Regions from separate parts of the Homo sapiens genome. Here all the other regions are reported to be linked to region 1. Evidence: microRNA targets listed by miRTarBase, many of them from high-throughput screens and not tested one by one. Region 1 holds a microRNA gene; each other region holds the end of a gene's coding sequence.

The links. The annotated mature microRNA hsa-miR-3175 reads CGGGGAGAGAACGCAGUGACGU and lies in region 1 at 4,451-4,472, opposite strand. An mRNA with a match to its seed (bases 2 to 7 or 8) in the 3' UTR can be bound and repressed. Matches are read on the target gene's strand: a 7mer-m8 pairs with bases 2 to 8, a 7mer-A1 pairs with bases 2 to 7 and ends in A, and an 8mer does both.
Region 2: the mRNA of C5orf24 is a reported target of hsa-miR-3175. Seed matches in the 3' UTR shown: 7mer-m8 at 3,355-3,361 and 7mer-m8 at 3,914-3,920.
Region 3: the mRNA of ADGRB2 is a reported target of hsa-miR-3175. Seed matches in the 3' UTR shown: 7mer-m8 at 5,883-5,889.
Region 4: miRTarBase lists DCAKD as a target of hsa-miR-3175. Seed matches in the 3' UTR shown: 7mer-A1 at 6,097-6,103 and 8mer at 5,556-5,563.

What each region holds. Positions count from the first base shown.
Region 1 is chr15:92,901,761-92,908,879 of GRCh38, reverse strand. MIR3175 (microRNA 3175) reads right to left here and starts at 4,481; the gene lies at 4,405-4,481. The region is part of intron 2 of CHD2 (chromodomain helicase DNA binding protein 2); the gene reads right to left. RefSeq lists enhancers at 4,188-4,427, 4,708-4,887, 3,749-4,948 and a silencer at 4,588-4,637.
Region 2 is chr5:134,854,570-134,861,688 of GRCh38, forward strand. C5orf24 (chromosome 5 open reading frame 24) reads left to right here. Exons shown (of 2, transcript NM_001135586.1): 2 at 329-5,166. The coding sequence starts at 332. The coding sequence ends at 898. Among named protein-coding and RNA genes, the nearest start is that of C5orf24, 12 kb to the left of the region's middle.
Region 3 is chr1:31,721,443-31,728,544 of GRCh38, forward strand. It overlaps ADGRB2 (adhesion G protein-coupled receptor B2), which reads right to left. Exons shown (of 33, transcript NM_001364857.2): 31 at 6,740-6,838; 32 at 6,583-6,639; 33 at 5,675-6,163. The coding sequence ends at 5,978. Among named protein-coding and RNA genes, the nearest start is that of COL16A1, 21 kb to the left of the region's middle. RefSeq lists an enhancer at 2,366-2,867 and a silencer at 2,413-2,613.
Region 4 is chr17:45,018,242-45,025,344 of GRCh38, forward strand. It overlaps DCAKD (dephospho-CoA kinase domain containing), which reads right to left. Exons shown (of 5, transcript NM_001288655.2): 5 at 5,103-6,483. The coding sequence ends at 6,192. Among named protein-coding and RNA genes, the nearest start is that of DCAKD, 30 kb to the right of the region's middle. RefSeq lists an enhancer at 385-514 and silencers at 1,025-1,274, 1,131-1,310, 3,791-4,140.

The DNA.
Region 1 (7,119 bases):
CCCAAACTGCTGGGATTACAGGAGTGAGCTACCACGCCCAGCCTGTGTATACATTTTAAAGGTATGCCTAGAACTGGATCTGCCATGACATTTAATATAGAAACATCCTCTTCCATCAAGCCTACAATTCCCCGTCAGCATCCTATCCCACTTTTGCTTCCAGAGGTCCTAACTCAAGCAGCTATTAAGACTAAAAAGGGAATTTAAAAATGGGACAGGCAATGGAAAGACCAAGGGTTAAAGTACACGAAGTGCTCCATCAGAAGATTTGAAAACACACGGAGATACTGCAAACATACAGAAACACATGCAAATTTGAAACACAGAGAGCTTTTAAAAATTAACTAGATCCTAGGGGCAGGGATGGACACTGGTATTTTTAGAAGCTCTCCACAGTCTGAAATGGGAATAAAAAGTAGAACCCATCTGACCTATAACCCAAAAAAGACAGGAAATAGAGGAAGTAGAGGAAACCCAAAACACACAAATCTTAAGACTATAGTTTAAGCAGACTTGCATGTTCGGCATTATGCTAAGACAAATATATAGTCCTATGGTTTAGACTGAACACTGAAAGCAAGCTACAGCCAATTAGACATTGGTTGTAAATATTACTGCTGTTACATTTATATCCATGGAGCAGTGCACCACAGTATTCAGTATTCATTCTCTAACAGCTTGAGAGGGGAAATGAGACAGAGGATAAACCAGGGTAATAATTATCAGCTTGGGGGAGTGGGGGTGGGTAGTTATCTACTCAGACTAACTGGCAAAAGCCGGGCTGTGATTCACACAAGAAGCTGTTGTAGTCCAGGAAGAGTCATATGCTCTCTCAAAAGGCTGGCTCTTCTCAAAAAAAAAAAAAAAAAAAAAAAATTCTAAGAGAGGATGAACTGTAAAACGCACCCAAGCTGACTAAATGAGGACTTGCCTCCTAAAATCATTCTCACAAATCTCTCCTGTAACTGGCCTAAACAAACTCTCCTGGTAGGCCAAGACAACCAGCGAGTTCCTCAGGGCCAACCTAGCTCCTGAAGAAGAACTTAGGATATGAAGGAGGGGTGCAAGAAAGTAAGATGAAACAAACAGTAAGAATAAAATAACCTTACTAAAAGCTTACATTTATTGAGCACTTTTAATGTGATGGGCTCTTTGCTAAGCATTTTATGGGCACTATATTATTTAATCTTCATGACCCAATGAAGATGACCATTATCTACATTTTTAAAATGAGAAAATTACAAGTCCAATCATAAGTGCTTCTTCACTGGCCTAAACTGGGAACAAAAATTTTCAGGACTAAAGTAAAAGCTGAACTCATACCTAGCTCTTGCCAGGCACAGAGGTAACAGTTAAGCATACACAAGTGACAAAATGACTCATCAGAATTAAATCCAAAGTATAAAATCAAGACTATCTCTACAATCCTGCCTTAGCCGGATGCTTCTGAAACATTCTCTCCTTCAAGATCAGTGATCACATTTTCCCCAAACTACAGGGACTCAGTAATGAGAACTGAAATACTTTTCAGTATGATATCCAGTCCAGAACATGTTGAAATACCAAACAAGAAGACCCATAACCAAACATATTAACAATAAAATGCTAAATTATGTAGCATGAATGGCTACCACATATCTATGTCCTCCATCATTTATTTCAAAAAGAAAAGCCTTGTCCCTCACTTCATAATCAGGGCTCAAATATATTCAGTATATAGGAGCTTTTTTTAAAAAATGTCTCTCCCCCTAGACTTGCTTTATCAATTAAAGATTCCATTGATTACAGAAAAGGGTCATAAGACAAATGTGAGTAATGTGTTCCAGCATTGTGCTGAATTACTGATCACAAAATAAAAATACAATCCAGCCTGGACATTGGATGACTAAGTTTTGTTACTCAGGCTTTATACTGATAACCCTAAAGTTCCAAAACAAGTTGTGAATGGCAGCTTTGCAAAGGTATACATGTGAACTCAACGCTTAGTCAAGCTGAAGTGCAGGAGGGAGTTACTCAGCTGTGACACACCCAGTGTAACCAAGCCACAAAGTTACTTTCACCTGTACACAAAATACTCTTAGAGGAATTTTTTTTTAAGTTTCTTTGTTCAAGTGACACCATATCAAGAAAGCCAAGTTCTTCAAGGAAGCAAAGTTCTAAGGTTACCAAGAAGCAGCTAAAAACTAAAGGATCTTAAAAAAAAAAAAAAAAAAAAGATGGCTCATAGCAAGAAAAAATTTAATGGCTGACACAGAGCAGTCACTCAATTTTTATACCAGAAACAAACTTAGTGTATCAAATTTTATGGGAGAAATGATAGGAGTTTGGAAATACCAGGTGGTCTCAGGAGGTCTCTCATAACTGTCAGTTGTTTTATTTGGGGGTAAGGGAGAGTAAACTAATGATAAAATCTGTGAGTTTTAGTTAAAATTCAAATAAACTTCCAGATTCACTCCTCAAGCAATAACTTGCTACAACTGTCACAACCAAAAGTCTTTATCAAAAATATTATTTGCCCACCTTCCTCTGCTGACTTAATCTTTACAAAGATACTAACTCCCTAACGGCCAAATACTAGTTGGAAAGTGCATATTTTAAACGGCAAGGATACAGAGAGAGAGAGAGAAAGAGAGAGAAATCGATCAACACTCTTTTCTTGCTGCTTGATGCTATTCCCCACATCAAAGGGAAAAAAAGTAGAAGGCTCAACAAACATACCTAAGAACACTGGTTCTATAAAAAACTTAATTGGCTGCAAGATTGTCAACAGTTAATAGGTAAATTGTTATATCATGGTATGCATTTTAACTCATAATGGTATTTAGGTTAAAATATCTTAAATAACAGAATAGTTCATATCCTCTTCAAAAATAATTAACTGCAATGTTGACTACTTTGACCCCAGTTTTAGGAATTGAAAGGTATTCAGCAAATACTATTAACACAACTAATTAGAATTCAGTCTCTACACAAAAAGGGAGGTGAGATTATTACTTTCGTTCTTGTGGCAGGTATACTTTAAGTTGGAAGCTACAGTTAAACGTTCATCAAGTTCTATAAACACTTAATTCTCTGTTAGCATTTTATACGCAATATACATTTGAGCATATAATTTTAAAATCAGGTACAAATTATTTGATGAACACTTCTCTGTAACAGAAAAAGCAATTTCAGCTAGTTTTCACAAACTATCCAAATAATTCTTCCCAAAGAACCTAGATTATGAGAACCTACAAAACTCACTATCATAGTGAATTCTAACTTTCACAGACTGTATTCAGAAACTTGACATACGCCCAAGCAAATATCACCTGCACTGAAGGGTCAACATCTCCTTTGAAGTAACACACTTTACTAAAATAACTCTAAACTATGGCTAACTACAGGACAGCCTACTCCAACTGCTAAAAAAACTCTAGTATGGCAGGAAAAAAACTTTGTCCACAGTAGATAAATCCACTGAATTTCTTGCTTGCTTAAATTCAGTATGTGTAATTTAATTATTAAGACATCGTTGCTGAACGATGAAGTTTTAACCAGAAATCCTTGTAAAGGTTTCCAAACAAGGCAAATCAGTGAGCATAAACCCAACCGTTTACCGGGACTCAGAATTCCCGAAATGGAGGCCTAGGGAAGATAATTGCGAAGATTTGGCCAAGTGACCCCACTATCAGCCAAGCTGTCAGTCACCCTGCATTAGCAAGTGCTATTAACACTTAAAAGAGTAGTTTTCTGACATTTACTTACATAGTAATGGTTGCCTAACGCTGTATTCTGCCACTTTTTAATGTTATTGAACGTGAAATTTTCTATTTTCTACTAAACTATCCCACTGTGAATCTTAAATATATAGTACTTAGCACATACTGACCTGAGTTTTTCTCCATCAAATGCCAACTGAGAAAATGTACGGTACCAAGTAAAAACGCATGGGGACAAGTTCAAATAATCTTCCCTTTGTTTATGAGCCATGTATTAAACAGCTGTTAACACCCGTCAAGAGGTTTTCACTAAAATAAAAGTATCCGCCTCTGACACTCAAACGTTTTGGTCAATTGTAACAAAATTAAACCCACTCATCTCTTCACACTGAACGGGGGCGGGGAGAAGGGACGCTAAGGTATGAAAAGGGAAAATGTAAAACTGGGCAAATTTTCTATTTTAAGATTTCCAAATAGTGCCTTTAAAATTTATAAATAGTGCCTGCACTTTTTCTCCAAAAGCAGCCGCTTCTCAAAGAGGATAAACCATTCCCGGAAATGGGCAAAAGAACACACTACAGGGTGCGGACCGCTACAGGCAAGGGCGGACAAGACTGCCAGGAGCAAACGCGTCCAGGAAAGAAGCCGCCCACCGGAAAGTCCCAACTAGAGTTCCCTTCCTTTTCCCCTCGGCGTGCGGCTCCCTGGGTAGGGGGAGGAGAAAGCGCCCGACATGCGCACGCGGCCAGACGTCACTGCGTTCTCTCCCCGCCCCCCAGGGGAGCCGTCTGACGTCACGGGGCGGAGGCTGCCGAAGGCGCCGCCGTTGACCCTGCTGTTACCAGGCGCGCGCACAGCCAATCAGCACCCCGCGCCGGCGCCGGCCGGCCTTTGAACTCGGCACGGCAACTTCCTGCTGTTTGGCGAGTACACAGTGCAATGCAGTATGTCTGTCAGCGCTGCGGCACAAAGGAACAGCCATTTTGTGACTGAGCTGGACCTGCATCAAGATGCCAGGGGCTCAAAGAGCTGCTGCGTGCCCTATCGAACTGCCTTTTATGTCGGCACCAGAGTTCCCCAGAAGAGCAGAGAGGGGGAAGGAAATAGGCTTTGGTATTTCAGATTTCTATTAGTTTAGATTCAGTCTTCTCCAAAATCCCGTTTTTTAATGTATTATCAGCGTCATAAAATGGCTGCCAGTTAAACTGCCTGTTCTAGTACACAAGTAACTGCATTATGCCATTTCTAATCATCCCCAGCCTTTTAGAATATCTGGTAAAGCGCCCCTGAAAATTGTAGGATTTACCCGCACCTCAGGTTATAAAAATAAATCTGGCTCAAAGGCAGACGATTTGGAGATAAATTTAATAAACTCGTTCAATTCTTAAGATAAATTGCTAACGTGGTGCCGTGGAGAACACACTGAACTCTTTGTGTGCACACAGTCCCGTTTTCATTCTTTGATGTTACTTAAGTTATCCCCAAGCTGCAAATTATTCAGATAAAAAGTATGGTATACTTCTCGTATGTCCATCATTAGAACTTTGTTTTAAATACTTAGAAATTTTACAAATATCAATCAAATGTTTTTAAAATCGCGTTTTTTAAAGTTTTTAATTTTCAAAAATCGTGATAAAGTATAACAGACTTTAGCATTAACTTCAAATTAAAATACAAACTTATATAACCACTATTAACTACTGCACTATTTCCAAAAACAGGGTATTACCAGATTTACCTAAACTTGCACTCATTCTTTCCAGATACTAAAGTAATTCTCAGACCAAAGTTTACTTGACCTGCAAACTCATTTCCTCTTCTGTGGCTCAGGCTGCAAAGGTGATTTTCGTAGTATTCCCTAAACACTATACTTTGGGCAATAAAAACTCTGATGGCAGAAGGAACCAAGTACTAATTACAGGGACAGTTCAGCTCAGTAGAAGTAATATTAATCTACCACATTAAAACACCACTAACATTCTACAGCTGCACATTTTAAAAGGAAGTGATGTCATAATTATGTACATGTATTAAGATATGAAATTTAGGGTAACTAATTTAAAAGTAACTATCTTCTTTTCAAAGAGTCTTAAATATTTTTGGACATCCATCAGGTATATGATTCAAAGTATACTTGACAAACCAATTTAAAAGTACAGTCAGTACATGCTTCATGTACAGCTGTAACCTCCACTACCAGTAAGCAAATGCCTGACAACTTCCAGGTAGTTTTCCAGGTGAGAGTAAAAATACTGAAAGAATACCAACACTGCTCAATTTTTTAGAATTAGAAAGCACAGTCTGATCAATGATGTTAACCACAAACCTTGCATAAGAGAGCCAAAACCCATGTGAGACCTATGCAAATGATACACTCAAGGGAGCAACAATTTTAGTGCTGAATCTTTAATAATTTGCCAAATATATCTGGAGGTTCTCATTTCTTCAAATTGTCATTACTTTCCAGAAAAAAACAGCTTAGGATGAGTAAAAAACTTTTCTGTCCTCAATTTAATCTAGTAATTTACATGGGCAATTCAATTAAGACAGCACTACAAACTGGGTGACAACTCAATGCAAAAAAATTTGGTAACTTATTTTCTAAAGCAAGGCTCAATATGCTTTCAGTCAAATAAAATAAATAGAATTCAGCATATTAGTAACACATCATGTTCAAAACTTTCAAATTCACTAGCCTAATAGAAAAGTGTATTATTTATAAAAATTAGAAAAGTAAAAATTGGGAAGGAAAACCACATAATGAATCACATCCTTGTTAAACTGCATGATTTAAAATTTATAATATGAAAATGCATAAAGAACACATCAAAAAATGCATTCATATGTACTTTTAAAAATTAATATACAGAGGTCATACAACAAAAACATCTTAGAGGCTTTATTACTTCATCACTAACAAGGTACTCCAAGGAATGTGAAACAGATCATGATTTGCACAAACAGTACATTTTTAAGCTTCAGAAGATAAAGCATTCCAGACGACTCTGTCGAAATACATCAATAAATTTAAAGCAGCTACATCTAAATTGTGAGGATAAAATACATCTACCAACAGGAAATCAATGTCTTAAGCATACAAATGCAAACCTTAAAATAATTTAAATGTAAAATATACAACTGCAAATATTAATCACAGTAACAAACACAAAATAGAAGTATATATTAAGAGTATTCCAGGATTTCTGTTATTACAGATTTGATTTCATAAATGCAGGAACTCTAACCATCAAGTAAAGGTTTTGATAAATCACATCAAAATTTCCTAAAATGTCAAGTGTATCAAAAGAAATATAAAGTCACATAAAAATATAAACTGAGAGGCATCAGTCAAAGGGTCCTTTAAGTGATTTTGTTTTTAAATGTACATTTTTTCATTCATATAACTTTCTGATATGTC
Region 2 (7,119 bases), not on the chromosome of region 1:
TCTAGAAGAGAAAAGCCCACAGAATAGAACATTTGTTTTTGACTTACACACTTTTCTGGTTCCTAATTGGAGAGCATTATAGCTATGAAATCAGTATTATAATAGAGTTATCTTGTATGATGTTTGTCCCATGATTAAATTGAGAAGAAGTGTCCTTGAATCTGCTGATGTGTGTTTGTTTATAAGTGGTCTGGAGTCCTGCCTGTTAGCCTAATTTTATGTAGCCTGCATAGTTGTTGGAAGACAGACTGTTTTCTCACTGAATGCTGCATACAGGTATGTATTTGTGTGTGTGTATTTATATATATTTGTCTTTTATTTTTGGTAGAAAATGATGCATCCTGTTGCCAGCAGTAATCCAGCTTTCTGTGGGCCTGGCAAGCCTTCCTGCCTCAATGAAGATGCCATGAGAGCTGCTGATCAGTTTGACATATATTCCTCCCAGCAAAGCAAATACAGCCACACAGTCAACCACAAACCAATGGTTTGTCAGAGGCAAGACCCATTAAATGAAACACACTTGCAGACTACAAGTGGCAGAAGCATAGAAATAAAAGATGAACTAAAGAAAAAGAAGAATCTCAACCGATCTGGTAAGCGTGGCCGGCCTTCGGGAACCACCAAATCAGCAGGATACCGGACCAGCACAGGCAGACCCCTGGGAACCACCAAAGCAGCTGGATTTAAGACAAGTCCAGGCAGACCTTTGGGGACAACTAAAGCTGCGGGATACAAAGTCAGCCCAGGCAGACCTCCAGGTAGCATTAAAGCTCTATCCCGTCTTGCCGATCTTGGTTATGGCTGTGGCACTGCTGCTTTTCCTTACCCTATGATGCATGGCAGAGCAGTTCATGGGGTAGAGGAAACTAGCAGTGAAGTCAAACCACCCAATGAGTGAATGAGGCAGGAAAAGAGGGCCAGGTTTAGAAGGAAGATTGTGAATAATCCCAAAGCTTCTTGGTTTTATTTTGATATACATAATTTTATGGCCTGGGCTTTCCAAATTTGTTTTCCTGTTTGGTTTTTTTCCTGCTTTTGCTCAAAAACTGCCATATGCTGACAGATGCACTCAGGGCATGAGCAGCGGCATTGTATTTGTACATAGGTTCAAGTGTAACACCTAACTAAATCATTTTTCCTTTTCCTTTAGAGTTATGGTCATGTCTCATGTTTCATTACTACTTTGGGGCTGTTCTAAATAGATGCTTTATGTGATAAACAACTGAAACCATTATACCTATTAGTTTGTGAAGTAAGCCTACAGTATAATAAAGACACTAACGTATTTTTAACTGATGGAGCAAAAAAGCAAACTAATGAATCAGGATTACTTGAGGTAATGGCTGTGTGAGTTTTTGTAACATTTATTTTCACAAGATGGGACACATATTTGTATGCTTTGGCATTTACATCCACTTCAAATGTTAAAAAACTTATTTTTAATGTTTTAGGTTTAAGCAGCTTGTAATTTATTGATCTACATGGCATTAATTGATTTAACCATTATACCTGAAATAATTCTTCAGTGTTTGCCTTTGAGCAGTGATAGGTTGTGTATTTTTTAATTGCCTAAGAGCATATATACCAAACACTACAAACAATTCATATTTACAGAAAATTTAAACTATTTTATAAAAACTGCACATTACATTTTTGGTGAAATATAGTGCATTCTGAGGATAGCATATTTCATATAATAGAAAAAGAAGCATTCTCTAGGTTTGCATGTAGCTATAGTCACTATATTTTGCCTTTCATATAGAAAGTTTTAAAGTATTATGTTTAAAAACATTTATTGGCTGGGTGTGGTGGCTCACACCCAGCACTTTGGGAGGCCGAGGCAGGCGGATCACTTGAGGTCAGCAGTTCAAGACTAGCCTGGCCAACATGGTGAAACCCCATCTCTACTAAAAATATAAAAATTAGCCAGGCGTGGTGGCGGGCGCCTGTAATCCAAGCTACTGGGGAGGCTGAGGCAGGAGAATTGCTTAAATCCAGGAGGCGGAGGTTGCAGTGAGCCAAGATTGTGCCACTGCACTCCAGCCTGGGTGACAGAGTAAGACTCCGTCTCAAATAAATAAATAAATAAATAAATAAATAAATAAATAAATAAAACCATTTATTGATGTTGCTCATTTATTTGGAACGTTTTTAGTTTTTCTCAGAAATTGTCCCATTGCATTAGCACTTACTGTGTTTTCAGGTTGATATCTACCAAAGGACACAAATTGAATGGTAGACTGTAAAACTGGTATAAACAGAATGCAGTTTCCCGACCATCAGAACCCAAATATTAAGAAGCATATAGGAATCCATCTATGCATGAAACATGTAAAAAATATGTTGGTTAGTTTAATTAAAAATCTTATTGTGGGTCCAGTGAGACCATCTCATCCAAAAGATTTTTTTTCCCCCAATGATGTTTGCTTTAGAAGCAAGATAGAAAGGAAAAAAAGTATTAGGTAGATATGTATAGTAGGGACAGAGGGAAATCTTTCTTCTTTCCTTTCTGAAAGTAATACTTCTTGTTACACATTTTATTTATTGAGTTTGTTCTAAATAAAATATTATAAACTTCAGACTTGAAAAAATTCCACTTAACTTTAAAGTTACAATGTTTGTATTTGGGATTTTAAATGCCTTTGAGATTAAAATGTAGAATTGCAGGACCCAAAAACTTTTAAAATAATTAAAATTTTAAAAGAGCACATGTTGTGTTTTTTGGGCTTGCTATTAATGCAAACTCTGATTGCAAATGGATGTCATGTTTCATACCTTTTTTATCAGGAAAAAAGCAGCAAGCCTTCAGGTGTTCCAGTGATGCCTGACACAATTGAGCTGGACTTTATGCTGCTCTTTACAGTAAGAGGTGTTGCATTGTATGTGGGGACTATGTGCACTGGCGTCTAAGACAGTGACCTCAACAATATTAGCTTTGCACAAACCATAGAGAACGATGTTGGATGGTTACATAATCAGTTATAACATTCTGGCAGCTAAATTGCTACAAGAGCTTTTTCTTGCAAAAGCTTAAAATACAAGATTTTTAATAATTTACTCAGAACAGTATAACTTCTGACACACACAAATGCTTGCCTCTTTATTCATATGTTCGTTACCTACTCTGTACATGTATCTGTCATTTAGCTGTTTCTCAAGATGATGTTCAGCAGTTGGCTGCTTAGAAATCTTTTTCAAGCCAGTTTCTAAAGACATTTGTTTAATGTTCTACCATAGAATAATGCACACCATTGTCAAAGATTTGATTATTGTGTTTTATAGTAAGTCCATTTGACATTTATTTCCCTTTCAGTTTATTTTCCTTCCTTATTTTGTTATACATACCCTTCCCTTTCTCCCCTGCCTTTCGTACATTCATTCCTCTTCCTCTACCCTCCAGCACATCTACTTACTGGTGCTGTGCTGTGTGTCAGAAGATAAAACAGGTGTATTATTGTATAATGAATTTTGTATACATGTTTATGAAATGGTGAGATCAACTAAAGGAGGCATGTTCATAACAGTGTTTATTATCAGCAGCTATGTCCCAGGAAAAAAAAATGGGAGGGGCAAATGGCTACAGTTGTAAATGGATAACATCATTTAGAAAGCCGAATTTACTGTTCATCTGAGCGGTTACCTGGAGTATTATATCTATGCACTGGTGAGCATCTCCTGATTCCACTTACTTTTCTCCCTGTGAACAGTTTACCGGTGCCATGCTGAAGAGAAAGACATCTAAGTGATAACATGAATGAAGTCTTAAAATTTAAAGTATTTTTACTGCTATATAAACTAAAGACTACATTGTGCATATTTTGTTAACACTGTCTCTTGTTATGATAAACACTGAAATAGCATGTTAAACAGTTGCCTATACTTTAATATAATCAGTTGGGGAAAACTGGCCTTTTCTCCCCCACTGTATGATTGTTTCTTGAAAGGTAAATTGCTAATTTTATACAGTGTAATTCTGTTCTTCACAAAATAGGTTTCATTATTCTATATTTAAACTGTTGGTCAGAAAATGATCTGCAATTCAAGTAAGTCTGCATTACTTTTTTCTTTAAAAAGTACTTTAACATGCCTTATTTATTATATTAGCAAATGAGCTAATAACAGATGAAATTTTCATTTTTTGACAGATATAACCTTGCATAAGTAGTATTTAGGGTGATTTTGATACTATCTTTAGAGTTTTGCATTGGATATTAAAAAATATATTGGCACAATGTATTGGAAGAAAATGAGTAGTATCTGGTTTAATTTTTAATATTTAGGGACATTTTAAAAAATCAATGTTTTAATTAGACTAAAAATTCTTTATATTTTTTATTTACTTTTTAAAGAAACATCTGTCAAAGTAATATTGATTCCAAACTGATGTTTGTGTGAATTTACATGTCTATTTTCATGAACTAAGAATAGAGTTTCTTTGAGTTGAGGAGAAAAAAATATATATGTGGGTCCATTTATTAGGTTAAAGTTGACCCATTCAGTGTAAAAATAACCATAGTGTGTGAGCTAAAGAAAAAAAAAAGTAAATTTCTCCTTTATATTCTAAGAAGCTTTAAAAGAACAATTCAGGGGTTATTGATAACTGCTACTCTGTCGGTCATTGTCTCTATATGCAGTAAAATTTTATGGTCCCTTTATAGGAATATAAAGAATTCAAAACAGTTTTTCAAAAGATTTTTTTCCTTGGACATAAAAAATTTTGATGCTATTCTATTTTTGTTTTTATTACAGCTTAACTGTATGCTGTTAAACTCTAGGATGTATCTGAATCTTTCCTTTTTTCCCCCCTCCTCCAAATATATAAATCTGTGCTCTCACATGTAATGTATTTAATTTTTGGAAAATTTAATGCTATATAGTAAATCAAGTGTGTGATTTAAAGTAATCAGATCACTTTGATTCTTTTAAGTTTTCAGAATTTCTTTTTTCCACAGGTAATTTTGGAGAAAATAATTACCAATTAACTGATAATAAGCACGCTGTCCTCTGCTGTAAAAAGTCTGAATAGATACTGTGTATGTTTTTATGTCCATGAACTTGAGCTACTCGTGTGCAATTATGTGTATGGGAATGGAGTAGTGTTCATGATTTGTATCTACATCATCATATGGATGTATATTTATTAATAAAGTCATTACTTTAAAACCAGCTATGTTTACTATGTTTTTTAGTGTGGTACTTTTCAAGTACTTAAGTGGTAAATGGTAAACCTTTTTCATGACTGTAGATCTTGTGTTTTTCTTAGAATTTTGCTTTTTTTTTTTTCTTTTTTAAGACAGGGTCTCACTCTGTCACCCAGGCTGGAGTTCGGTGGCGTGATCATAGCTCACAGCAGCCTTAACCTTCTCGGCTCAAGCAGTCCTCCTACCTTCCCACCTCAGCCTCCCGAGTAGTTGGGACTACAGGTACCTGCCACCATGCCCAGCTAATTTTTTATTTTTTTATTTTTATTTTTATTTTTTTTGGAGACAGAGTCTCACTCTGTCTCCTAGGCTGGAGTGCAGTGGCGCGATCTCCGCTCACTGCAAACTCCGCCTCCCAGGTTCACGCCATTCTCCTGCCTCAGCCTCCTGAGTAGCCTGGATTACAGGCGCCCGCCACCACGCCTTAATTTTTTAATTTTTGTAGAGATGGGGTACCCTATGTTGCCCAGGCTGGTCTCAAACTCCTGGTCTCTGGCCAGGCGTGGTGGCTCACCCTTGTAATCGCAGCACTTTGGGAGGCCAAGGCGGGTGGATCACGAGGTCAGGAGTTTGAGACCAGCCTGGCCAAGATGGTGAAACCCCATCTCTACTAAAAATACAAAAATTAGCTGAGCGTGGTGGCAGTTGCCTGTAATCCCAGCTACTTGGGAGGCTAAGGCACAGAATTGGTTGAACCCGGGAAGCAGAGGTTGCAGCAAGCCGAGATCATGCCACCGCACTCCAGCCTGCACGACAAACAAACTTAAAAAAAGATAAATCAGAATACAGCTAGAAATAAAAAAAGATGCATCAGACAAATAGTTCTACTAAAAGGCTAATATTTAAATTTAAACATTATTGATCCTTTTGGTTTTTTTTAAAAATTAGATATTAAACATGGCTCATTTTTAAATTTATTTTGAGATACAGTCTCTGTCACCCAGGCCAAAGAACAGTGGCACAATCATAGCTCACTGCAGCCTTGAACTTCTGGGCTCAAGTGATCCTCCCACCTCAGTCTCCAAAGTAGCTGGGACTACACCCAGCTTATTTTTTTTTTTAAGTTTTTTTTGTAGAGACAGGGTTTTGCTATGTTGCCCAGGCTGGACTTGAACTCTTGGCCTAAGACAATCGTCCTGCCTCAGCCTCCCATAGTGCTAGGATTACAGAAGCAACAGCTCATTTTGTTATTTATTTTTTGAGACGGGGTCTTGCTCTGTCACCCAGGCTGAAGTGCAATGGCAGGACCTTAGGTCACTGCAACCTCCAAATCCTGGGCTCAAACGATCCTCCCAACTCAGCCTCCTAAGTAGCTGGGACTACAGTCATGTGCTACCATGCCTGGCTAGTTTGTATTTTTTTTTTTTTTAATCGTGTGCATGTGTATTTAAATAGAGATGTGGCCTCACTAAGTTGCCCACACCTGTCTTGAACTCCTGGGTTCTTAGGTATCCTCCTGACTCGGTCCCCCGAAGGCCTGGGATTACAGGCGTGAGCCACTACACCTACCCTGCCTAGATTGTTAAAAGTCCTTTCACTCATAAATGGTCATGTGCTATTGATTAGGTGGGCTATTCCTGAAAAGATATACACCATCATAGTACGGACAGTTTGCTTGGGCTCACAGGATTACTTATTGTTTATTAAATATATTTTAGTCCAATTTTTTCTAGTTCTTCATAGAGTTTGTAATATTTAATTGTCCATTGTAATTATATTTCCCCATATTCTCAAGCAGATCATTTGAAAAAGCTAACCAATTGAAGATCTGTAGGTTGAAGAGAAGGCAGTCTCCATTTATCACCTAGAATTTAATTTTAGACAGGGTCTCACTCTGTTGCCTAGGCTGGAGTACAGTGGTGTGATCACAGCTCACTGCAGCCTCAACCCTCTGGGCTCAGGCAATTCTCCCACCCCA
Region 3 (7,102 bases), not on the chromosome of region 1:
CACCGTGCCTGCTTCTCCACCTTCCCCATGGAGTCCAGAGTCCCATCCGTCCCGAAGGTCTTGGAGTCCAGGCCTTGTTGAGTGTCCCCCCAACCCCATTCCCACCTCCAGGAACTGTGGCTAACCTGAAGTGCAACAAATGAGCAGAATCAATCTCTGTGATGATAACCATTACTGGGTCTCAGGACCCGGCCTCCCAAGGCGGTAGGGCTGGTTATTTCTGATCATTATGTAGGATCTTGGAGAGGAGGTAGGGACAGCCTCTCTGTTCATGGAAATCTCCCATCATCCTCTCCAGCTAACTCACCTTCAGAGACTACAGTAAGCCCTGAGCTTTCTCTCCCTCTTTTCTCTTTTTTTTCACCTGTCCTGAACAAAGGGAGTCTCCCTCTTTTCAAAGCTCCACTTTAAGAACTGTCTCTAGTCCCTTGATTTATTCACCTCCCACCCTACTCTACAACCCACCTCAGTGCTGGTTCCTCCCATAGTAATGACTCCAGCCCAGCCCCTCATTCTGAGTTCCAGCCCTGTGTGTTCAACTACCTACTTTCCACTTGACATCTCCCCTTGACCATCTCAAAGTTGACATGCCTGCTATGGTTTGAATGTGTCCCCCAAAAAGCATGTGTTGGAAACTTAATCCCCAGTGCAACAGTGTTGGGAGATGGGGTCAATGGGGGGTGTGTGTTTAGATCATGAGGGCACCGCCCTCATGAATGGATTAACACTGATTATAAAAGAGCTTGAGTCTTTGAATTCAATCTCTTGCTCTCTCTCTCACCCTTCTGCCTTCTGCCATAAGATGATGCAGCAAAAAAGACCTTGCCAGATGACAGCCCCACAACCTTGGACTTCCCAGCCTCCAGAACTGCAATGAATGAATCTCTGTTCTTTATAAATGACCCAGTCTCAGGTATTGTTATAGCAGCACAAAATGGACTAAGACAATGCCCAAGGCCAAATTAATGACTGTCTCCCCCAAAGCTGGTCCTCTTCCTGTACCTCTATGCCAATGACACGGTCATCCATCCAGGTGTGTAAGACAGAAGCCCAGGTGTCATCCTTGGCTCCTCTCTGATACCCAATCCACACCAGGAGCTGAGTGCTGACAATTCTACCCACTACATATATAGAAACTCCATTCCTCCTCCATAGCACCCTCTAAAGTCTCCTTCATGCAGATCATCTCCTTGCTGGTCTCTCTCTCCACCCTCACTCTTCAGTGTCCCTGCCCCCACCAATCCATTTTCCATCCACTCAAGAGAAATCGTGTTGATATAGAAATCTGATCATGCCAGTACTCTGCTCAACACTCTTCCTTAGCTTCCCACTCTCCTTAAAGGCCAAAACCCTCAGTGGAGTCTCCTCTGCCTTAGACACTTAGCATGTGTTTTGAGGGCCTGAGAGGGTGGAAGTCTTCCCAGAGTCAGTGGCCTTGGAGGAGTGGAGGGAGGAATATGATGGGTACTGGGGACTGGATTAGAAAAGCCCCAACTGGGGGACCCCATGAGGTGCCAGGGTGGGCATGAAGAAGCCTGAAGGGAAATGAGTCCTGAGAAGCAGAAGTCAGCAGCATCCCGCACCCAGGTCCTCCCTCAGGCCACCTAATTTCCTTTTAATTGGTGCCTAATGGAAGTGATTTAAGCCCAATTAAGTTTTAACGTGTCTGTTCCAGTCTAGCCTCAACTTGCTTCCCTTCTCCCAGAGTCTAGGGCTGCAGGGGTAAGGGTAAGGGTGAGGGTAAGGGTGACCCCTTCCCCTAGTGCTGCTGAGGGAGGCCTGATACCAGTCCACAGGTCTCCTCAGGACCTTCCCCTACTTCCCCAACACCTCCTCCCTACCCACCAGTATCCCCAGGATATGTGGAGCCCAGGAACCCTGGCTTTGGACCTCCCTTGTGCGGGCACTGTGCTGGCAACTTTCCCTCCATCACCTCCTCAAGCCCTCTCCATGGCCCCATGAGGCAGGCTGTGCGGAAGTACCTCCTTTTCACAGAGGGCACTGAGTTCACTTGCTCAAGGTCACTGCCTTTGTTCTGCCTAGAGCTGTGCTGTCCGACATGGTAGCCTCACGGGAGTACTGAGCAGTCAGAAGGTGGTGAGACTGACTTGAGATGCACTGTAGCACTGTATGTATAAAACACACACGAGATTTCCAAGACTCCGTATAAAAAAAGAATGTTAAATATCTCAGTCATTTTTTATATTGATTATATGTTGAAATGATCGTTTTTTAATATATTGAATGAGATATATTATTAAAATGAATTTCACCTTTTCAAACTTTTAAAGAATGGTTACTAGAAAATTCTAAATTACATATGTCGTTTACATTGTATTTTTATTAGACATCTCCCAGGGTCTGTTCTCATGAAGGTAGGGATGGTCTGCTCATCCTTGACCCTGCCAGTCTGGAAAGCAAGAAAAGGCTGCAGCTGAGCTTGTGCGGGCGGGCCTCTCAGTCTTGTCTCCTCATCCTTTGGGTGAAGACAAGTCCCTTTCAGCACCCTGGACAGCAGCCAGGGCTGGCTTCCCACTTGGGGTTGAGGAAGGAATAACTGTGGGAGGAGTAGATTAACACCTATAAAATGCTTCCCATGAATCATCTTAAGTCATGCTCCGGATATCCAGTGAGGAAGACTGGGTAGGAGTTGTCATTATCCCAATTTTGCAGATGAGGAAATCAATGTTCAGGGAGATTTGTGTATTCCACCCTTCACCCGCTAAAGATTCACTGATGCCTGCTTCATGTGGGCCTCTGAGTGCACAAACCACAGCAAGGCCAACACAGATGACAGCAGTTCTGTGTGATCAGTGCAGTAGTGACAGTGCATGCCAAGGCCTGTGGGGGCCCAGCGAGTGCTGACTGCTGGGCCAGGGAGTTCAGGGACAGCATCACACAGGGGGCTACTTGGGCTGGGTCTGGAAGGCTGAAGGAGAGTTTCCCCTCTGTGAGGAGGAGGGAGTTTCAGGCAGAAGGAGTGGTGCATGCACAGGCATGGAGGTCAGAGAGATGGGCCAGAGGAGGGAGGCAAGGGCCACATCACCAAGGGCCTTGAACTCTAGGCTAATTCCAGGATCCACAGAAGGCATCTGAGCAGTGGCCTGGCCAGATCTGCATTTTGGAAAGATCACTTGGGCCATGTGGATGAAGGGCTGGAGACTGGAGGCAGAGAAAATGAGGGCAATGATGTGAGAAATTTGAGTCCAGGAAAGAAATGACAGGTTGTTAGATATTAGCTCAAATGGAAGGGAGATCGAGCCAACTCATTTTACAGATAGGGAAACCCATGTCAGACAGGGTCCAGTGGCCTGTCCAAGGTCACGCAGCAAGTCAGTGCCTGGGGGAGCAGGGACTGAGGGCAAGGGAGGGACAAAGCCCCCACCCCAGGAAAGCTAAGTGGCTGGTCTCAAAGCCAGCAGAGGCCTCTGCAGGTAGCTGTGGTTTGTGTTTGAGCAGAATCAACAAGGTAAATACTAAACTTCCTCTTCAACCAGATGCAAAGCAAGAATGGACAGGAGGGCAGGGACGTGCACATCACACCTCAGCCCCAGAGGGCCCCAGAGGTGGTGACCAGCGGAGCCTAAGACCAGGAAGGAGGGAGGTGCGAGCACAGGACAAGGCATTAAGAGGGCCTTTAGGTGATGGTCAGAGGAAGGAATGTGGAGTAGGATCTGCTGGTACATGGTCGGGCTTTGTTTGTGCAAACCCCCTTTTAGGAACAGGCCCCCCTTTCTCAGAGACCTGCTCCCTCTCCTCCCTCTCCCTCTCCCCCATGGTTCCTGATGGGACTGCCAATCACAGTGCCCCAGCCTCCTTCCTGGGGCCAGCCAGAGCTCTTCCTTCCTTGGGGGTTTTCTAATTGGAATTCAAGAGAGAAAGTTTCTTCCCCTCTAGGGGCAATGCTGAGTGATCGAGCTGGGAGGAGGAAGCCTGGCAGGCCCAGGGGGAAGAGGCCTTAAAGAATGAAGCCGACACACATTCGAGAGAATGCCAGGAGAGGATGAAACATGCGGTGGCACTCCTGATCCCGGGTCCCATCACGAAGGCCAGCCGCACTTGCCCACTGCTGTCCTTGCGGCAGCGCGCTCCTGGGTGAACAAAGCTCCCAGGTGCCTAAGCTGGCTGGTATCGGATTCTGCCACTCCCAGCCACAAGTCCCAGTCACAAGCTGAGCTGTGGGAGCTTGGGAAAGTCATGTCCCCTCTCCAAGCCTCGATTTACTCATCTCCAAAATGGGGCAGTCACAATACCTACCTTGAAGAATCAAATGAGGTAGTGCTTGAGTGAACTCTGTGTACACTTAAGTGCTGGGGCTGCCCGAAGGGAGGGAGGCGGAGGAGTGAGTCGCAGGAGCTCCAAGGGTCTAGAAGCACAGTCCTGAGTGGACTCTGCCCGCACGGCTCCTCTGACCAGGTCTCACAGCAGGCAGGATTGGAATGAGACCAGAGCAAGCCTGTGCCATCAAGGCCTGCAAAACTCTGAAGAGGCCTCCGCCCCTCCTCCAGCACCCCTGGGCAGGCCATTATCTGTGATACCCCCTACCCCAGCAGCCAGTCACTTCTGTCACTCCCACCCAGGCTGCTGCAGCACCTAACCCTCCCTCAGCTCTCCAGGGACCTGTCTGTGTCTCCGAGTCCCTGGGAAGGGGCCCAGAGGTGCCCATGTTGCTAAATGACCAGGCAAGAAGGACCTGTGACCCTGCTAACCGTGCCTCTGCTCCAGCTGCTGCCTGACTCCAGAATATGTTTCCAGATGTAATCCTGTGCCCCCTCTTTCTGGGGGCCTGAAAACTGAGCAAGGATCCGCTCACTCAGGCATGTAATGAATGCAACTCAGTACAAGCCTCCAGCCCCTGGCACCAAGCCAGCCTGGCTCCCACACCCCACCCCAGCCCTGGCCCGGTCCAACACCTGCATCTCCACCACAACCCAGCATCTGCGGCTCCCCTGCAGCCATGGTCAAGTTCCAGGAAGCTGAGCTGAAGCCCCACCTCCATCAAGCGTGGGTTTGAAGTCCCAGCTCTGCCTCTGACTGTGGCCTTGAGCCGGGCACTGCCCATCTCTGGCCTCATTTTCCTATCCACAAAATGGGCAACCTAAAACCTTCCAACAGGGTTGTTGTGAGGGGCCAGGGGATATGTGTGTGAAGCTCCTAGCTTAGAGCACTGCATGAGACTGGTGCCACATGGTCACAGCTAACCCTTCAAGAGCTTATCCTGTCCCAGGTATTTGCTGAACACTTTACAAATAGGAATTTGTTTCATCCCTGTAACAACCCTGTGAGGTGGGCACTGTTACCATCCCCATTTCACAGATGTGAAACCAAGGTCACTAAGCTCTGTCTTGGCTCTAGCCCAGGAAGTCTGGCCTCTGTGCCCCAGTGAATGGCAGCCACGACCATCACAGCCACCAGGAAAAGCCAGCCATAAGAGGTCCCCTCCCACACTCCCAATCTGCTTCCCACAGCCCAGATCGGGGAAAGGATGAATCACCCAGAGAGTCAGGGACAAAGATGGGGTCAGAGCCTAGGCCGCCCCCTCCCAGGCAGGGCTGGACTGACCCCATCACATCATCTGATGAGATCAAGTGAGTTCAACCCAGGAGACAGAAACAAAGTCGGGGTCCCAGAGCTGGGCCTTTACCTGAGGGAAGCAAACAGCTCAGCAGCAAAATCCACAGAGTGAAGTTTATTCCCAACAAAGTTCCCCTCCCCCCTCCCCAGCCCGGGACAGGGACGGACAGGCTGGGCTGAAGATGGGGTTCCAGTGGCTGAGGGGCCTCTGAGAAACAAGGAAGGGCCCTGGGACCCCAGGCCAAGCCATGTCCGGCTCCCCCAGCCTGGCTGAGTCCACGGCGCCTCCCTGCCCAGCCCTCGGGAGAGGGGAGAGGGCGCTGGCTCCTGGGTAGTTCCAAAGTGGAGTGTGAAAATAGAGAGATATATATATTTATATGCAGTGGGCAGTCCAGCGTGGCACTCACACCTCTGTCTGGAAGTCACCATCCGGTGGTTCTGTGGGCTCCCAGGCTGCTGCCCGGTGCAGAGTCAGCCGTTCTCGGGGCTTGGGGGGCAGCGAGCCCAGTGTCATAGATTTGAAGGTGCTCCAGCTCTGATGGCGCCGATGTTGGGACAAGCTGGGGCGCTCCCCAGGGCTGGGCTTATCCTGTGGAGGGAGCGGGAGGGGCCGTGGAGATGGGCCAATATCCTTACCCATTGTACAGACGATCAAACTGAGGAGTCCCAGAGAGGGCTGGTAATGCCCAAAGTTATGGAGCAATCAGGTGTCAAGCAGAATTCAAATACAGACCTGCCTGGTTCCAGGGTGGGGCTCCTGACCCCTGTTCTCAGTGGCCCCCAGGACATGTCTCCTGCTGACCACTCTCCCTCCCAATCCTGGAGGACCTCCACCCCTGTTCGCCATCTGCAGCACCTTCCCCACCCCCAGGCGGCCCCAGACTGTTGCCCATGCCGTGGGGGAGGCCCTTGGTGAGACAGGCTGGGGTTGCCTGGGAGGGGCAGGAGGGCAGGGAGGGCACGGGTCCCTCAGGCCCACCTCACCCCACCCAGCCCGGGGGGACTCACGGTGCACACGCTCCGCTCGGCTGCCCCACCCGAGGACACACTCCACCGCTTCTCCCTCTGCAACGGGGGCCACCGGTCAGGCTCCAACCCCAGGGGCCACTGCACCAGGTCAGGCCCTGAGCTTCAGGGCAGGGGCAGCCACGGGAGGAGCCCTCACCTTGGCCGTGGACTGGCTGCGGTAGCGGTCGAAAGTGTGGAACTTCTGGTTGAGCTCGTGGTAGAGTTCTGAATGCCGTTTCCGGGTGTGCATCACCTTCTAGGGGCCACAGGGCATCAGAGGGTCGCTCCCCGGGGCAGCACCATGATCCCCCCTACCCAGGGCACTCAGCACCCCAAGCCCCCCACATCCCTCCCTGCTGCCAGCCCCTCTGGGACAAGACCTAGTTCTCTCTTCACGTTGGTGCTATGGGCTTGGGCAGGGAGGGAATCATGGGAAGATCCCACGGAACCCCCGGGCTTGGGCTCCTGGGGTCAGGCTCTGCAACAGAGCTTGGACTACTTTTAGGAGTGAGCCCTCCAG
Region 4 (7,103 bases), not on the chromosome of region 1:
GACTAGCAACATGTAGCCAGGAGAAGGCAAAGCCTCAACTACAGCCCAGCTGTCCTGATTCCCCCCTGCCACAAGGCTGGCCTCCTGGTACTCAGCTTGGCAAGGGTCAGGAGCCCTTGGTGACCTTTTTCAGATCCCTCCGGCCTCCTTGCCTGGCTGTGGCCTTGGGATCATGGCTCTCTCATTCTCCACCCCTGGTACTGGAAAAGCGGCTTCTCTTTTGGTTGTGCCCAGATGCACTTGGGCTGGGGGTCAGGACTTTCCCTGATGGAGCTTGACCAGGGTCCTGGGGCCTGTCCAGCCCCTGCCAGAGACTCTGGGGATGCTGGCTGTCTGCTGCTTTCCCTTTGGTATTTTTCAGTGGCTTGGTTGAGTCGCCTCGAACTCACTGTCTCTCATTTCATTCTAGAGCCTGTTTTAACCCCTAGCAGGGTGAGAACTAATATCTGTGGAAAGTCACTGTGTGCCAGCCCTGGGCAGGGTGCTGTCCCTCCATGCTGTTGACCCCACAAGGTGAAGGTTGAGCCCCCATGTTATGGGGGACTCCGAGGCTCAGGGAGCATAAGTAACTTCCCCAAGGTCACCCAGCGGGTAAGGGGAGTTCCTATGACGGGGCCTGGTCTTCCTGACCCCAAGTCCTTGCTTTGAGCTCGCTCCACCCATCTGCTGTCTCCGTCAGACAAGCCAGGTGGGGGCAGGGGCCAGACAGCGCAGGGCGCGGCGGGAATCAGCAACAAGGACCCTCCCGGGGAACTTTTCCCATTGAAAATCTGTTCCCTCGCGGCCACGGGTGATGTCTGGCTGGAGCTGATGAAAAACGTGCAGTGTAATGGAGGAGGGCGGCGAGGGCGGCGAGGGCGGCGCGGGCGGCCCGGGCGGGGGCAGCGTGGCATTGAGATTCTGCGGGGCGCGGGGGGCGGCGAGGGCCCTGACACTGGCCGGGTAATTGATCTGGAGGTGCCAATTTGCAGCAACTAAATATTTGGTTTCTGCCTTTGCCCGCTCCGCGCTCTGCTCAAACAAACTTCAATTAAAAGCGAAAAGCGAGGGGTGGGGAGGCGGCTCACCCGGGTCCCTGCGGCCCGATCGATGGCGCGGAGCCCGCGGGCTGGCGAGCGCGGCGCGCCGGGCGGGGACACGGCGGACGTGGGCCGGGCGGGCGCCCTCTTCCGGATCGCCGAGCACCGGGCGCCCGGCCCGCGGGAGGCAGCGCCCGAGGGTGGGATGGCGGAGGCGGTGCTAGGAGCCCGGGAGCCGCGGCTTTAGCTCAGCTCAGCTGAGCGGAGGGGTGGCCACCGTGTGCCAAGCGGGGGTCACACACAGGGCCAACCCCAACACCTCCACCGCGGAGTGTGAGCCTGTGTACTAGGCTAGAAAACCCGGGGAAGGAGACGTCGCGGGGCGCTGACCCTGTTCTCCCTATGCACCTCTCCAAACAAACTTTGAAGATGACCTTGTTGTTCGGTGCAATCACTCAGGTCTTTCCTGAGCGCCACTGGGTGCTGGGTGCACTGGGCTCCAAAGCCAGTCTCCTCTTCCATGTCTGTCCACCCCTTTACTCTTGGGTTGGCAAAAGAGCTGCCAGTGAATCCATCCCAGGACCCAACCTTGGAGGGGTCTGAAGGGGAGGGCTTGGAATTGGGAGAAGAGTAGTGAGATCCTGGGGGTTTGGAGAGGGGTCCTGGGAGGTGGCCACAGCTTGGAGCAGAGGAGGAGATCATTGGGTCACAGTTGCCTTTTTTGGGGTTCAAGACAAACAGCAACAATAGTCATTCACTGGGTGAAGTTAGCCCACAGGGAAGTTTCTCTTCCTCAAGAATCTTCCAGTCCTTTGAGGGTAGAGGGGAAGGGCTGGGAAGAAGAGCTCACCACTGTGCGACAGGCAGAGCATCTCTGGTCAGCCGGGTAGGGCAGCCTGGGGCACAGGAACAGTTCTGGGAGAGATGTGATGGGAGGAGGTGGGGCTGGCAAAGAGGCATCCAGGTCGGCATAGAAGGCAGAGGTAGATTCAGATCCAAGGAAAGAGGAGGGGAGCTGGGGTCCTTTCATCTGAGTGAAATTTTCTTGAGGGCCAGAGGCAGGAGCTGAGGCAGAGGAGCTAGGAAGGTGAGGGAGGGGGCCCTTGGCCTTTCCCACATTTCTGTGCCCCACCTTCCAGGGTGGAAGACTTACTCCTTCACCAGATGAGGCTGCTGCTAGTTCACTCAGCTGTGGGCTGTGGCCCCTTTCCTTCCCGCTCCCTGTCGACCCCTTCCCCTGTCCTCCTAGGTACCCCGTGGCCCACAGCGGGCTGTTAGAGCACAGGTCTTGCTTGTGTGGACCCTAGCCTCCAGGCCCTCAGATGCCCACTCCTTGGTGCATAGGGCTCTGGGAGAGGGTGGTCCTGCTATCTCGGCTTCTATCCCTTTTGACACTAAGATGCCTCGCTTGCCGGACCCTCAACCACACTCAACTCCCAGCTCTGTCTCTCTTAGTGGCTTGGGGCACCAATCTCCCCATCACACAGAAGTTGGATCCAGAGCTCCGCATGAGGCTGAGGATGAGCCTAGGGCTGGCCTGCCCCTAGGAGCCTCCCCCACCCCCCACCCCTCAGGGGTGGGGGGCTGCAGCACTCCCAGCCTTCTGCCTGAAGCCCGTTCCCAGCCTGTAAGCTGGGCGCCTGCTCCCTTGAATTCCCTCCCTCCCTCTCCCTTCCTGAGCGCTGAGCTGTGGAGCAGAATGATTTCCTGTAATTGGCCAGCAATCCGGCCGCCCGACTTGTTCTATCGACATGCTGGTTAGCTGGAAATTGTATTGGAATCTAAGTGACTGGGAGCGGAGGGGAAGGTGGGGAGCAAAGAGAGGCGGTTTGGGTCCCAGCTGGGTGCAGCCTCAGCTCTGCAGGTGGGATGAGGAACCACCAGCCACGTCTCTCCTGGAAGGAGCAGGAAAGCAACCTATAGCACCACATCACCTCCTTCCTTTTGCTCCTTCTCTCCCACCATGTCCGGGGGTCTCCCTGCCCACTCCTATATGACCCCATGGCCTGAAGTCATCACTGCCATCGCATTCCCCCTCCTGCTCTGAGACTGTTTCCTTCTGACCTAAAGTGCCTTGGTGAGAACTAGGGGCGCTCAGCAGCGCGCCTATCCTGCTCCCATTCAATTTCTAGCCATGGAGGCTCATCATGGAAGGTCCTAAACCTTTCCCTGCCTCTGCCCTGCCCCCCATGAGGAGAGAGAGAGAATGAACATTTGAAGAAGAGTTGTCAATTACTAAAGAGCCAAAGTGTATAATGGGGGCAGTGCAGATAGCCGGAGGAGCACTGTACTGGGAGTCAAGAAGCTTGGTGGTTATACCTGTTGGCTACTTAGGCCCCTTGGCTCAACCTCTGAGCCTCTGTAAAATTCTGGACCTGTCTGCCTCACACAGCTGGGAGATTTCAAGGGGATAACTGGAACGTGCTTTGTAAACTGTGAAACTGCGAATGACCTTCGGGCCAGTCGGGCCTGGGGGTGGGGGTGTTTTAGAGGCCTGCCTGCGCCCTTCGTCCCCCGCCCAGAAGGCGTGTGCGTCTTCACCCTCGCTGGTGTCTTATTGCTCCGCTCCGGGTGCTAAGGCCCAAAGTGAGGGAACGGAACGCGGAGGCTGCAGGGTCCCGTCGCCGTCGCGGTGGGTGGGCAGGGGACACGCCCTTTGGCACCCAGGGCCCGCAGCCCAGGCTCAGAGGACGTGGGCGAACAACGCACCTTTTGAGTTAGCGCTCAGGGTCAGGCAGAGCCTCCGCGCCCACCTGGCCCGTGCTCCCGCGGCAGCTGCTCGGCAGGAGTCTGAGGCCGCCCGCGGCCTGGGAGGAGGAAGATTAGGCCGCTCGGCGAGCGCCCGCCGCGGAGGCCCGGCCCAGCCCGGGAGGGTGCTGCCACCTGCCGGCCGAACGGCAGGCCGCCGGCTCGGGCGCGGGCCTGGGTCCCGGAGGCCCGACCTCTGCAGTTGCTGAGCGGCCTCAACTTCAAGTCCCCTTCGGAGAAAGTAGTCCTTCTTTTAAGGCCGCCTTGGACCCCCAAGGCCGGGAAGGGGATCCTGGGGCAGGGAGGCAAGAGGAGCTGGAGAGGGAGCTCTGGCGAGGCCCGGGCAGGGCAGGGCTGAATTCGAGGTTTCTCCACACCTGCCATGCTCTGACATTCCTGCTTCAAACCCAGCTCACTGGGTCAGGGAAGGTTAATTCTCTGGAACTTTACAGTTTGCTAAGGGTTTTCAGTGTCCTCCACTATGAAGCCTAACGATGTATGAGTAGAAACTAAAGGCAGGAGGTCACATGGCAAGCGGAGCCGGAATGCGAGCCCAAGGCCCAACCCCAGGCTCCAGCTCCTCCTGACAAGAGGCTCAGGGCACAGGAGAGAGTTCAGAAGCCTGGCTCTGCAACCTGGACCAAATCCATCTTTCTGAGCCTGGGATGGAAATAATCAGTGTTATGTTAACTATAGGGTCTTACACATCCAGCAGTGCCTGGCATGCTGCCGATACTAGGAAGTGCCATTTCCTCAATTATTGGGGTGATAGGGCACTGTGGGGGTCCATACCTTCCCTCTCCTTTCTCCGTCCTGGCGGATCGCACCAAACCGAGGAAGTGGCAGGCTCCTGCCACCCTCATCCTGCCTGGCCACCCACCTGGCAGCCCACCACTGCCTTACCCGGCCCTTCTTTGCCCCTTAGGGGTTTGCAGCAAGTTAATGAGCTAGACTCAGCACAAGCGGCTCTGGGAAAGGGGGCACTAAGTATGGCCACCACAGCATTTGCATCCGTCACACTCATTTCTAGCCTTAATAGGCTTCTGGCTGCAGGATCAACACATCAGCAAGTCTGCAGGCCCTGGCAGGGAAGGCTTATGTCTGCGCTGGTCTAATTGGGTTGGGGAAGGCAGATGGGGAGGCGGGGCAAGAAGGTGTGACGCTGCCTCAGCCCTCTACCCACCTCCCACAAAGGTGCCTCGGGCCTGGCTGCAGTCCTCCTGGGACCCAGGGAGAAGCCTGATGGCAAGTGCACCTTCTGGGGCCCTCACCTCCCCCTGAGCTCCGGGAGGACTCCAGCCCAGTGTGGGAAGAAGCCAAGTCTGGGAATCTTGGTTGGTCTGGGGCATTTCAGATCAACACACTTTATTAAACACCAACAGCGGGCCAGGCTCTGCACTAAGAACACAGAGATGAATAAGACACTGTCCCTGTCCCTAGAGGGCTTACAGTCTAGTAGGAAAAACCAGGCAAGTTTCGGCTAATTACTGTACTGTTGGATTAAGGTAAAATGTTGAGGGGGAGTTGGTATCCTAGACCACCTAACCCAGCCTGGGGCTTTAGACAGTGCCTGAACTGAGAGCTAGTTGTAGGTTAAAAAAAAAAAAAAAAAAAAAAAGGAAGAAGAAATAAAAGAAAATAAAAGGTATCCCAGGCCAGGAGCAGCAGGTTGAAGGCACAGAGGCAAGAAACAGCAAGGATGGTGTACACGGAATACCAAGAGGTCCAGGCGAGAAGCAGGGGTGGCAGGCAATAAGCAGGATGTGGGAGCACTACACAAACCCTACGTGGGGAGAGGGGTCTCCCAGAAGAGGCTGGTCCTGCCTGGCTACAGCGTTACCCACGAGAGAATCCTTGCTGCTTGCTGGCAGCAAGCCATACTGGGGGGCCTGGGCCTTCAGTATAAAAAATATCTCAACCTAGGGGAGGGCCTTGTTGACTGTTTGAACATGGAAACCCTTGGTCCAACATGATTTCCCGTGGTCCACTGAGGAGGTTTAGGCCACAATGGGGTAGGTGCTTAGAGAGGATTCAAGCCCAGTGAACCCTTGGCCTCCCAGCTCTGAGGAGGGCCACAGAGCCAGTATTCCCTACCCCCACCCACAGAAATGTATAGCAGTCTCTGACTGTTGCTTTCACACACCATCACGGTTGCTGTTCTGTAGGTGCTGCTCAGGGAAGGTGGGAAGGACAGCAGGCTATTTCTTGATCTCAAATAGGATACACTCCAAAGACGGGATGGCCTGGCACAGAGGCCCAGCCCTGATTCGGAGAGTCCGTGTGTGTGTGTGTGTGTGTGTGTGTGTGTGTGTGTGTGTGTGTGTGTGTGTGGGGAGGGGGCTGAGAGGAAACAGGATGTGTTACCTGGCTTCAGCCTCCAAGGAGATAGATGGAGGCCTGGGGCTCCCTGCCTTGAGTGCCCCACTAGGCGTAAGGCAGAAGGTAGTGGGTGAGCAGGTAGAGGAGGCTGGCAATGGCAGCGAGCCCTGTGAGGACCCCAAACCTCAGCGGCAGGTACTCCAGGGAGCGCTCCAGCTCAGTGTGCAAGAGGATGACCTGGCGTTTGGTGACACTCCACTCGCCCGAGTTGTCTAGGACATGGCGGGCCATGCGGGCCTTGTCTGTCAGGGGCAGCTGGGCATTGATGCGGGCCTCTGCGTCCTTGCGGTTCAGGCTGTTCCGCCGCATCAGCCGTGCCAGCTGTGTGTCCCGGTCGCTAAGGATAGGGCAAAAGGGCACTGTAGGTCCTGCCTCCCTCTCACCCCAAGTTACAGGGATAGGCAGCCCTGCCAGGCCCAGCCTGAAACAGAGAGCATGGGGACTGGATCTTCCCTCCAACCCTACCCTGCTCTGGGCTACTTAGGGTCCCACAGCCAGGGAGGGAGGCTTGGAAGCTCACTGGCTGCCTCACACCCCACTCCACTCACTGTGAGGAACCCAGAGCTCTATGGGCTACGGAAGCCCCTTAATACAAACAAGGGGGGAACTTTGGCCACAGCTCTTTTTTTTTTTTTTTTTTTTGCCATCTGGGGTCTCTTTGCTTTGCTACTAGACCTGACATTCCCCAGTCATAAGGTGGGAAGATTTCATCACCTGGAACCAGCTACATCCTGGATCCCTGGATGGGTGACCTTTACTGAAAGGCCTATGCCTATGAGCTAGACGCTTCCTGCAGTTCCCCTGGGGGCCTGGGTCTTCAGTATCAAAAATACCTCCTTGGGCCATCACAGAGACCCCCTCTCCTTGCTGCTATACCCCTCCCCTGAACATTTAGAGTAAAAGGATTGTGCTAAGATGGTATCTCTTGTGCTTAATGCCACTGATGATGTGGGACAG